Linked DNA regions of Homo sapiens: region 2 is linked to region 1. A link means that fine-mapping ties the variant in region 1 to the expression of a gene that starts in the linked region. Tissue or cell type: whole blood. Region 1 holds a variant in brackets; the other region holds the start of a gene. All regions are shown on one strand. Distances are between the middles of the regions.

Region 1 (5,227 bases):
AATTTCTCTCTGAATAGCCATTTTTCCCCATTAAAAACAGCAACCTGGGCTACAAGACTATAAAAAAGGGACACATTCCCACCCAGGATACCCAGGAGAACTTTTTACCACCCTGTGGAATTTGGGGTGACAAGCTTTTTGCACAGATCACGTACTAGTTCTTGTACTTGACAAAGAATTCTTCTGCTTCAGTATATTGTCCAGAAGGGAGCTAAGAAAAAAGAAATAAATTAGTCACTAGTCCCTTATTTGTAAAAGAATGAACTTTTTAATTTTAACCACACATTGCAGAACTTCATACCAATAATCTCTGAATATATTAATAACTCAGAGATTAAGGAACTAGTCTGGTACTTCAATAATAGAGGCCTGATAGCTGGAAAAAGTAAGCCTTTATCCACTCTAAACAGGTAAGTAAAAGAAGCACCAGTAAAGCAGTTCCTGTTTTCTAGCTAACTTTCCTCCATCATCTCTCACAACTACACCTTAGCAATATATCTGACATCCAAAGGTGCTCATTAAATAAAGCCTGTGAACATAGCATTACGGGTTAATATTAAGATAGAGAAAAGCCAGGCGCAGTGGTGCACAATGGTAGTCCCAGATACTCAGGAGGCTGAGGCAGAAGAATAGCTCAAGCCCAGAAGTTCATAGTGTGCTACGATCATATCTATGAATAGCCACTGCACTTTAGCCTGGGTAACACAGTTAGACTCTATTTCAAAAATAAATAAATAAATAAATAAATAAATAAATAAATAAAAATAATAATAATAATAAAAAGCCCTCACCTCCTTCTTCACAATCCGCATAGAAAGCACTTTGTCTACAATGGCTGCATCTTCTTCACTGGGATTCTCCTGCAGCAAAAGATGCAGTCAGTCAACAGATGATTGTGACCAGCAAGGCAATCCTCTGAAATCATTTGAGTTTACAGCTTACCACAAAGAACTGCATGGAAGGCAAAGTCTCGCCATCTGGTTCTTGCACTGGTTCAGGGAGGATAGGCTCAGGTTTTATTGGACCAGTTACATCCACCTCTTCTTCTTCTTCATCATCTGTGATCTTTATATCCAGGTCCTCTGTATATTTTTTTCGCTTAACTTGGCGGTTTGAGCGTCTCTTCTGTAGAGCAAAAAGTAGTTAGAGTGACTAGTTAGGTCTCTCACAGAGAAGACTTTTAAAATTATTTGCTCATGGTCATATACTTAGATTCTACTCCAAAATTTTCATGAAAAATCAGACCAAAAGATGATAAGGAGATTATCTGTCAAACAATGTGATTATGCTATGTACTGACCATATATCAATTTGCTTAACTGCTTTATGAAAGGCCAAGAATCCACTGAGAAAAACCTGTCCACTAGTGGCAAGAAGCTCTGGGAAATCAAAACTGGATTCTCAGGCTGCAGGGTGCAATATAATTCACACTAGAAGCAACCCGTTAGTGCAAAAATGCAAGAAGATTTTGTTTCCATTTTTTGCTTTTTTGTCTTAGTTCTGAAGTTTTTTTTGTTTTAATAAACAGAATCTACTGTATGTACTATTCTGCCACTTACTTTTTTATTTAATGATATTTCCTGGAAATGTTTTCCATATATATTTTTTATTTACCTTATTCTTTCAAGTGGCTGAATTAAACATTTTCTAATTAAGTAATTTAAGCAACACTTCCAGCTCATGATAAAAAACTGGGAAGGAGGCTTGGTACAGTGGCTTATGCCTGTAATACCAGCACTGTGGGAGGCCGAGGCAGGCGGATCACCTGAGGTCGGGAGTTTGAGACCAGCCTGGCCAACATGGTGAAACCCCGTCTCTGCTAAAAATACAAAAATTAGCCAGGCCTTATTTTTCAATTATGATTATCTCTCTGGAAAACCTCAAAGGATCAAATGAAAGAACTACTGAAACTAGTAAACTTGAATGGTATAAAACTAATTTTTAAAAAATCAATAGCATTTCTACATATAATCAGCCAGAAAATATAATAAAAGATCCCATTTATGAAAACACAAAGATTAATTATCTACAAAACTAAATTGGCTGGGAGTGGTGGCTCACACCTGTAATCCTAGCACTTTGGGAGACCGAGGCAGGTGGATCACCTGAGGTCAAGAGTTTGAGACCAGCCTGGTCAACATGGTGAAGCTCTGCTAAAAATACAAAAATTAGCCGGGCCTGGTGGCGGATGCCTTTAGTCCCAGCTACTCAGGAGGCTGAGGCAGGAGAATGGCTTGAACCCGGGGGGTGGAGGTTGCAGTGAGCAAACTTCATTAGTATAAAATTAATTTTATACCAATACAAATATAATTTTATATTTAAAAATGTTATATTTTTGTTTCACCCAACAGACTGGCAAAAATCAGCAAGTTTGATCAAAATATTTTTAAGTAAGAATTCATACATTTTTGGTGAGAGTACATATAGGCACGACTTCCATGAAGAAAAATTTGGCAACACCCTTTGAACCTATCAATTCCACTTCAAAGATACTATCCTATAAATTTGCATATGTGCACAAATCTCTGGAGCATTACTTGTGGGAGTAGGAGACCAGAAAAAACCTAAAGGCCCATCAACAGGGGATTGGTTCAATAAATTATGCTATAGCCTTAAAACTGAATACTACAGAACTACTAAAAAAGAGTGCAGGCTGGGTGCAGTGGCTCACACCTGTAATCGTAGCACTTTGGGAGACTGAGGTGGCAGGATCACTCAAGCCCAGGTGTTCAAGACCAGCCTGGGCAACACAGTGAGACCCTGTCTCTATTTTATACAAAATATAAAAATAGCCGGGCACGGTGGCTCACGCCTGTAATCCCAGCACTTTGGGAGGCCGAGGCAGGCGCATCATGAGGTCAGGAGATTGAGACCATCCTGGCTAACACGGTGAAACCCTGTCTCTACTAAAAATACAAAAAATTAGCCAGGTGTGGTGGCGGGCGCCTGTAGTCCCCGCTACTCGGGAGGCTGAGGCAGGAGAATGGCGTGAACCTGGGAGGTGGAGCTTGCAGTGAGCCGAGATCGCGCCACTGCACTCCAGCCTGGGAGACACAGTGAGACTCTCT[CA/C]AAAAAAAAAAAAAATATATATATATATATAATATATATATATATACACACACACACACATATACACATTAAAAAGAATGGGGTAGATTTATAATACCAAATGTTGAAGATGTGTATCAACCAGAACTCTACTGGTGAAGTATAAAATAACATAATCACTTTAGAAAACTTAACAGATTCCTACAAAGTCACGTTTGTATATTCATAAAGTCAAATATTACTGAAGAAAAAAATAAACTACTCATTTATTTAGCATAGATGAACTATCAAAAACATTATGCCTTTCTCATTGATGTGTGGGCAGAAGAAAAAGAACAACAAAAAATTATGCTGAAAGAAGTGAGACCCAAAAGTACATACTGTATGATACTACTTAAAGTTCAAAGCCGGGCACGGTGGATCACGCCTGTAATCCCAGCACTTTGGAAGGCCAAGGCGGGCAGATCATTTGAGGTCAGGAGTTCAAGACCAGCCTGTCCAACATGGTGAAACACTGTCTCTACTAAAAATACAAAAAAATGAGATGGGCATGGTGGCGTGCACCTGTAATCCTAGCTACTAGGGAGGCTGAGGCATGAGGATCACTTGAATGCAGGAGGCGGAGGTTGCAGTGAGCCAAGATCACGCCACTGCACTCTAGCCTGGGTGAGAGTGAGACCCTGTCTCAAAAAATAAATAAAATAGCCAGGCGCGGTGGCCCACGCCTGTAATCCCAGCACTTTGGGAGGCCAAGGTGGGCATATCATGAGGTCAGGAGATCGAGACCATCCTGGCTAACACGGTGAAACCCCGTCTCCACTAAAAATATAAAAAAATTAGCTGGGCGTGGTGGCAGGCGCCTGCAGTACCAGCTACTCAGAAGGCTGAGGCAAGAGAATGGCATGAACCCAGGAGGCGGAGCTTGCAGGGAGCGGAGATCGCGCCACTGCACTCCAGTCCAGCCTGGGCGACACAGGGAGACTCCGTCTCAAAAAATAAATAAATAAATAAAGTTCAAAAATAGGCTAAGTTAATCTAAGGTAAGAGAGAGCAGAACAGCAGTTAGCTGCCTATGCCCTGGAGTGAGGAACTGGACTGACTACAAGGGAGTACAGGGGAACTTACTGGGGTGATGGAAACATTTTCTTCACTTGGTGAAGTAACTTCGATACATTTGTCAAAACTATACAAACAAAATTTGTGCATATTTTATGATATGTATATTCTACGTCATTTTAAAAAGTCTGGGAGGATATATAAACTAAATTATTTCTAGAGAATAACAATTTCTAGAAGATACTTTCTACTTTTTACTTAATATATTTCTGGATGACTTGATTTTTATCACATCCATCATATAGTATTCTTAAAATGACCTTTTTAAAAAAAAAATTTAGGAAACACTTTAAACAAGTACTTAGATTTGGTTTAAAATAATCCAGGGTGGGCCGGGAGCGGTGGCTCATGTCTGTAATCCTAGCGCTTCGGGAGGCCGAGGCGGGCAGACTGCCTGAGCTCAGGAGTTCAAGACCAGCCTGAGCAACATGGTGAAACCCCGTCTCTACTAAAAATATAAAAAATCACCTGGGTGTGGCAGCATGTGCCTGCAGTCTCAGCTACTCCGGAGGCTGAGGCAGAAGAATTGCTTGAACCCGGGAGGCAGAGGTTGCAGTGAGCTGATATCGTGCCACTGCACTCCAGCCTGGGCAAGACAGTGAGACTCTGTCTCCAAAATATAAAAATAAAAGAAAACAAAAAAAATAATCCTGGGTGCCGTACACTGGAGACCATGTCTAGGGACAGCAACTGCAGCCAGACCCTGAGCTGGGCCATCCCTGCCACTCACTGGGTGGTGCTGGGCAAAGGCATGCAGCTACAGGACAACCCCCCAGGGGCACAGTCTTCAGCACCACCCTGGGAGGTACCAGGATCATCTACGACTAGAAATTCCTGGAGTGTCGGAACTCACCCATGACCAAAACATCCCCGAGGGATCTGCCCACCATTCCTGGGGTCACCAGCCCTGCCAGTGATGAGCCCCCAAAAGAAGCCAGCCAGGGCCACCTGTGCAATGGCCCAGAAGGTAAGTAGTCGGGCCGTGAGGAATCACAATTTGAGATGGACATTTAAAGGACCAGCCATCAGATTGCGCATTGCCTATGGGCTCCTCCAGGCCTTT
Region 2 (5,227 bases), 38 kb after region 1:
CACATCTTGAAAATTAGATACCCTAAAAGGTTTCAATTTTCACGAGGTCAGGAGTTAAAGACCAGCCTGGCCAATATGGTGAAACCCCGTCTCTACTAAAAATACAGAAATTACATTCCCTAAAAGGTTTCAGCTAAACAGAAGCAAAAGTGTACAACGTCAGTGAATTAAGTGAAAAGGAAAGTGAGCAAAATCACAGGAAGATGAAAAGATCACCAACTTGGTGAGACAAAAGAATAAAAGATCATAGATCATGTAAGAGGGGATATAAAAAGTTAAAGTGAGATAAGAAACATGATAGTCTGTCAATGAATCAAATGCTAAAGGTAAAATAGTAAATATTATACCACAATGGTCACAGTAATGTAAGGACAGGTCATGCGAAGACCTGCAGATCAAGGACTGGCTCAAATCCAACTCCAGAAGTAGAGAGATTCTAGAGGTGAAAGTGGAGACTCGAGAGAAATGTTTGTCTTCTGTTTTCCTCCCAAGTATTAGGCTCAATGTAAGCTCAGAAGATAGCTTAACTCTTCCAGAGCTGTAGACAAACAGTTCACTAAAGCATTTAGCATTCATCTGAATGTTACAGTCCTTTCACATATGAGAATATCAAATCTTATTTCTTCAGTAAGCAAACACAGTTTTGACACCCACAACTTAATCTTAAGTGGTAATTTTGCTTAGAAAAGTGGCTCATGCCTGTAATCCCAGCACTTCGGGAGGCCGAGGCGGGAGGATCACGAGGTCAGAAGTTCAAGACCAGCCTAGCCAATATGGTGAAACCCCGTCTCTACTAAAAATAAAAAAAAAAATTAGCCAAGCATGGTGGCGGGCGCCTGTAATCCCAGCTACTCGGAAGGCTCAGGCAGGAGAATTACTTGAACCTGGGAGGCGGAGGTTGCAGTGAGCCGAGATCCTGCCACTGCACTCCAGCCTGGGTGACAGAGCAAGACTCCGTCTCAAAAAAAAAGAAAAGAAAAGAAAAGAAAAGAAAAGAAAAGAAAAGAAAAGAAAAGAAAAGAAAACTGACAAAACCAAAAGAGCAGATGCACAGGACAGATCAAACATGGAGAATACAAAAACTGTTCAAGTACTCATACACTGTTCCATTATATCCCTTATCCCAATCCATTACTCCTTTGCTATCCTCTGGCTGTGTCGCCCAGGCCGGAATGCAGGGGCACGATCTTGGCTCACTGCAATCTCCACCTCCAGGGTTCAAGCGATTTTCATGCCTTGGCCTCCCATGTAGCTGGGACTACAGGCACGCGTCACCATGCCCGGCTAATTTTTTTTTGTATTTTTTGTACTTTTAGAGACGGGGTTTCACCATGTTGGTCAGGCTGGTCTCGAACTCCTGACTTCAAGTGATCCGTCCGCCTCCACCTCCCAAAGTGCTGAGATTACAAGCGTGAGCCACTATTTCAGTTTTAAACTTTCTCCTAAGCCTGTCTCTTCAAACTTGCCTACTCTCTCTTTGGCCAATATCTTTCACTTGCCTTCAGATCCACTGACACGCCTCTCTTGCAGCAGAAGGTCTTCTTACATGGAAAATGTTTTTCTTATCATAACTCTTTTTTTAAGGGTTGGGATAATTCCAAAGTACTTGAAATAAGTTTCTCATATCTTGCTCTATGAGGTTGACTAGAATTTGTTCTGAAACCTATTGGATGACCAATACAAAAGAAATTCCTAAGCAGAAGACACGATCTAATTAACTAACACAGGACACGATTCAAATCACAAACTCACTTTCGATATGTAATGTGCCCCACACCAGATGACTTCAGCATATGCTAACCTAGGCTGAGAATCCTTGACTGAGTCGACAAACTCAGAAAAGCATGGAGATGAAACGATCTGTAGACGCCGCTGTGATGGTAGGATGCAGCAGACACTGATAAGGCAGCTCCCCTGGCTTGTGTTTGGGGCGCTCCGCTGTTTATTCTTTAATAGAAAAAGACAGAGTTCTAAATCTTTGACTTCTGGCTCACTTTGCTTAGCCATACGAAAGAGATGGGTCCACTATATACCTTTTCTGTGAAGACCCTAACCGCTTCAAGACTGTCCCTTAAAAAGCAAGAGGCTGCTGCATTTATACAGCTGCTGCAGGGAAATTCCCTGCGACACTAGAGACAGGTAAATAAACTGCATTCGTTCCAAAGCAGGGGGAAGGGTCTTCTATCAGTGACGAGTTTACATAATGCAACGGAAAACCAGTGAGCTCTGCAGACCTGTCAAGGAGGATGCAAGGCTTGAGCTCCTCTCTTCCCACCATCTCTAAACATTCTCCAACAGCCTGCTCTTCACTGCCAGGAGACCCACAGAACTTACACCTGAGAATGAGTAACAATCTGCTTACGCTTACCCCATGCTTTCCTACCCACCTTTATTATTAAAATACAGAAGAAAAAAAAATAAAAAGAAGTAGAAAACCCTAACCACCTATTTCTGAATCCAAAGTATGGAGTAACCAAACGGGGCCGAGGAGTTTTCCCTTCTCTGAAGAGAGGAGAACAAGGCGCCGCCTCCAATCTACACTACGCCCAGTAATGCAATGACAAGCCCTGAAAACTCCACAGCGTCCCAAGCAGTCCCTCGCGGCTCGGCCCGGCTCGGACCCCGCGGCCCGGCAGCCACCCTCTCCCCCGGCCTCTCACAAAGGAGACTGGTTCAGTCCGGAGCATCACCCCGCACCTGATCCCTCACAACTGGGGGGCGAGCAGGGGGTGGAAGAGAGAGGAGAAGGAGTTACTTAAATCAAATCTCTGAGAGCCTCAGCTTTTGCTGACTCCTGGCCCAGCACTGAGGAGCGGGTGCGAGCGGGAAGCCTACCTGTGCAAGTCCTGGTACTTCCTTTCCAGGCAGCGTTTCAACTCACCCTCTCCGAGAACAAGGCGCCTTCCGGCGGAGCATGGCCAGCCCTCGCCTCAATCTAGCTTGCTAGTAGTCCATTCTCCCTAGGCTCCGCCCCCCTGCGCTCCCATCCGCCAATGGCAGCACCGAAGCCCGGCCTCTTCCAGCGAGCTAGTGTGAGCGCCATCCAGGAAGTCTCTTGAGGGTGGAAGGTCCTAGGAGGATGAGAAGGGTACGTAGGCGACCACAAATATGCCTGATTGAAAATAAAATCTGGCGGCGGCTCGCCTCTGACGACTCAGTTCACAGGCGGCCAGGCCCCTCGGCATCTTTTTTTGACCCCCGCCATTGGGGGCGCTGTGAACTAAAACAACACTTAGTTACCTACTTCTGGGAAGCCATCTTGGCTCGGACTCCGGGACTGGGTGAGAGTGCTTAAAGAATGTGAAGACCCTGTCGGTGTTCTGTCCGACTATCTAGGTCCAGCCCGAACATACTCTGCTGTATACACTTAGGAGGCCCCTCAGTCACGACGTGAAACCCTGGAGTAATGCCGTATGTGGTTACGGGCAACAACCACCACCACCCTCTCACTTAACTGTAGGAGTAAAGCAATTTTAACAAATCAAATAAGCAAAAATTAATTCTTCTAATGAGAGTGAAAGTTGCACTTTCCTAGGGTAATCCTTTATGGACACCTCACTCAAAATATCAGGACATGTATCTATTATAGGTGCTACTAAGCTTTAGGATTCACTGCAAATTTTCCAGTAGGGGCACTGTGAATCAGTTGGAAATCAAGAACAGGACTTAAGGAGGAATTCCTTTTTTTTTTTAAAGGCCTAATTTTTTTTTTTTTTTTTGAGATGGAGTCTCGCTCGGTCACCCAGGCTGGAGTGCAGTGGGGCGATCTCGGCTCACTGCAACCTCTGCCTCCCGGGTTCAAGCAATTCTCCTGTCTCAGCTTCCTGAGTAGCTGAGACTACAGGCTCCCGCCACCACGCCCAGCTAATTTTTGTATTTTTAGTAGAGACGGGGTTTCGCCATGTTGGTCAGGCTGGTTTCGAACTCCAGACCTCAAGTGATCCGCCCACCTCGGCCTCCCAAAGTGCTGGGATTACAGACATGAGCCACCATTCCTGGCCAAGAAATCTTTTTTAAAGTTGTGAGTGAGGGAATCCTTCCAGATTATTAAAGGAATTTCTCAAGGAGTAACATAATTGCATGGTCTTACATGATAGGAGCTCAGAGACATCAAGAAGTCATATGAGTGATAAGACTCGGCCTTAAGCTGGGCGCAGTGGCTCACGCCTGTAATCCCAGCACTTTGGGAGGCTGAGGCGGGTGGATCGCCTGAGGTCAGGAGTTCGAGAGCAGCCTGGCCAACATAGTGAAACCCCGTCTCTAGTAAAGATACAAAAAAAAATTAGCCGGGCGTGGTGGCAGACACCCATAATCCCAGCTACTCGGGAGGCTGAGGCAGGAGAATCGCTTGAACCCAGGAGGCGGAGGTTGTGGTGAGCCAAGATCTCACCACTGCACTCCAGCCTGGGCAACAAGAGCGAAATTCCATCTCAAAAAAAAAAAAAAAAAAAAAAAAAAAAAAAAAAAGACTTGGCCAAATACATTTCCCTGTGTATCAAAATCTGTCAGCCAAGACAGGCGCGGTAGCTCACGCCTGTAATCCCAGCACTTTGGGAGGCCGAGGCGGGTGGATCACCTAAGGTCCGGAGTTCAAGACCAGCCTGACCAACATGGAGAAACCCCGTCTCTACTAAAAATACAAAAGTAGCTGGGTGTGGTGGTGCATGCCTGTAACCCCAGCTACTCAGGAGGCTGAGGCAGGAAAATCACTTGAACTCGGGAGGCGGAGGTTGTGGTGAGCCTAGATCATGCCATTGCACTCCAGCCTGGGCAACAAGCGGGAAACTCTGTCTCAAAAAAAAAAAAAAAAAAAATCTGTCAACCAAATTCTCTCCTGGCTACTGCTGCCATTATATCAATTTGATGTTAGTATTAAGATTTATCAGAACAATGTGTTTGTCTGTAAATGCATATACAGATATAACCTTAATTATTAATAGTTTCTAGGATGAGAGCCTATTATCCATCTGGTACAGAATAGACCTGTCATCAAAGGAGCTATAGATATTATGGAAATGGGAACAGGTGTGCCTGAACCAATTTCTGGTACCTACACTGATCTTAGTATGATTTCCAATGGTCTTGGCCTTCAAAAACCAATGGACATTGGTAAGACTATAGATGGAAAAAAAAAAAAAGTGGACATTATTTCATAACTACCATTCTTCATATGGGGTGGCATATCCACTTTTTATAATTCTTCATGACCACTTCACTCAGAATACAG

The links. PIP is the estimated chance that this variant, and not a neighbour inherited with it, causes the effect.
Region 2: it holds the start of CHD8, and the variant in region 1 is fine-mapped to the expression of CHD8 in whole blood (INTERVAL, PIP 0.91).

What each region holds. Positions count from the first base shown.
Region 1 is chr14:21,414,783-21,420,009 of GRCh38, forward strand. CHD8 (chromodomain helicase DNA binding protein 8) reads right to left here. Exons shown (of 38, transcript NM_001170629.2): 6 at 943-1,125; 7 at 792-860; 8 at 156-211. It also overlaps the pseudogene EIF4EBP1P1. Among named protein-coding and RNA genes, the nearest start is that of SNORD8, 20 kb to the left of the region's middle. The variant CA/C (reference allele first, on the strand shown) is at 3,069.
Region 2 is chr14:21,453,197-21,458,423 of GRCh38, forward strand. CHD8 (chromodomain helicase DNA binding protein 8) reads right to left here and starts at 2,927. Exons shown (of 38, transcript NM_001170629.2): 1 at 2,836-2,927. LOC124903283 (a long non-coding RNA gene) reads left to right here and starts at 3,201. Exons shown (of 2, transcript XR_007064064.1): 1 at 3,201-3,281. RefSeq lists enhancers at 2,670-3,359, 3,224-3,775, 3,390-3,439, 3,450-3,499, 3,776-4,327.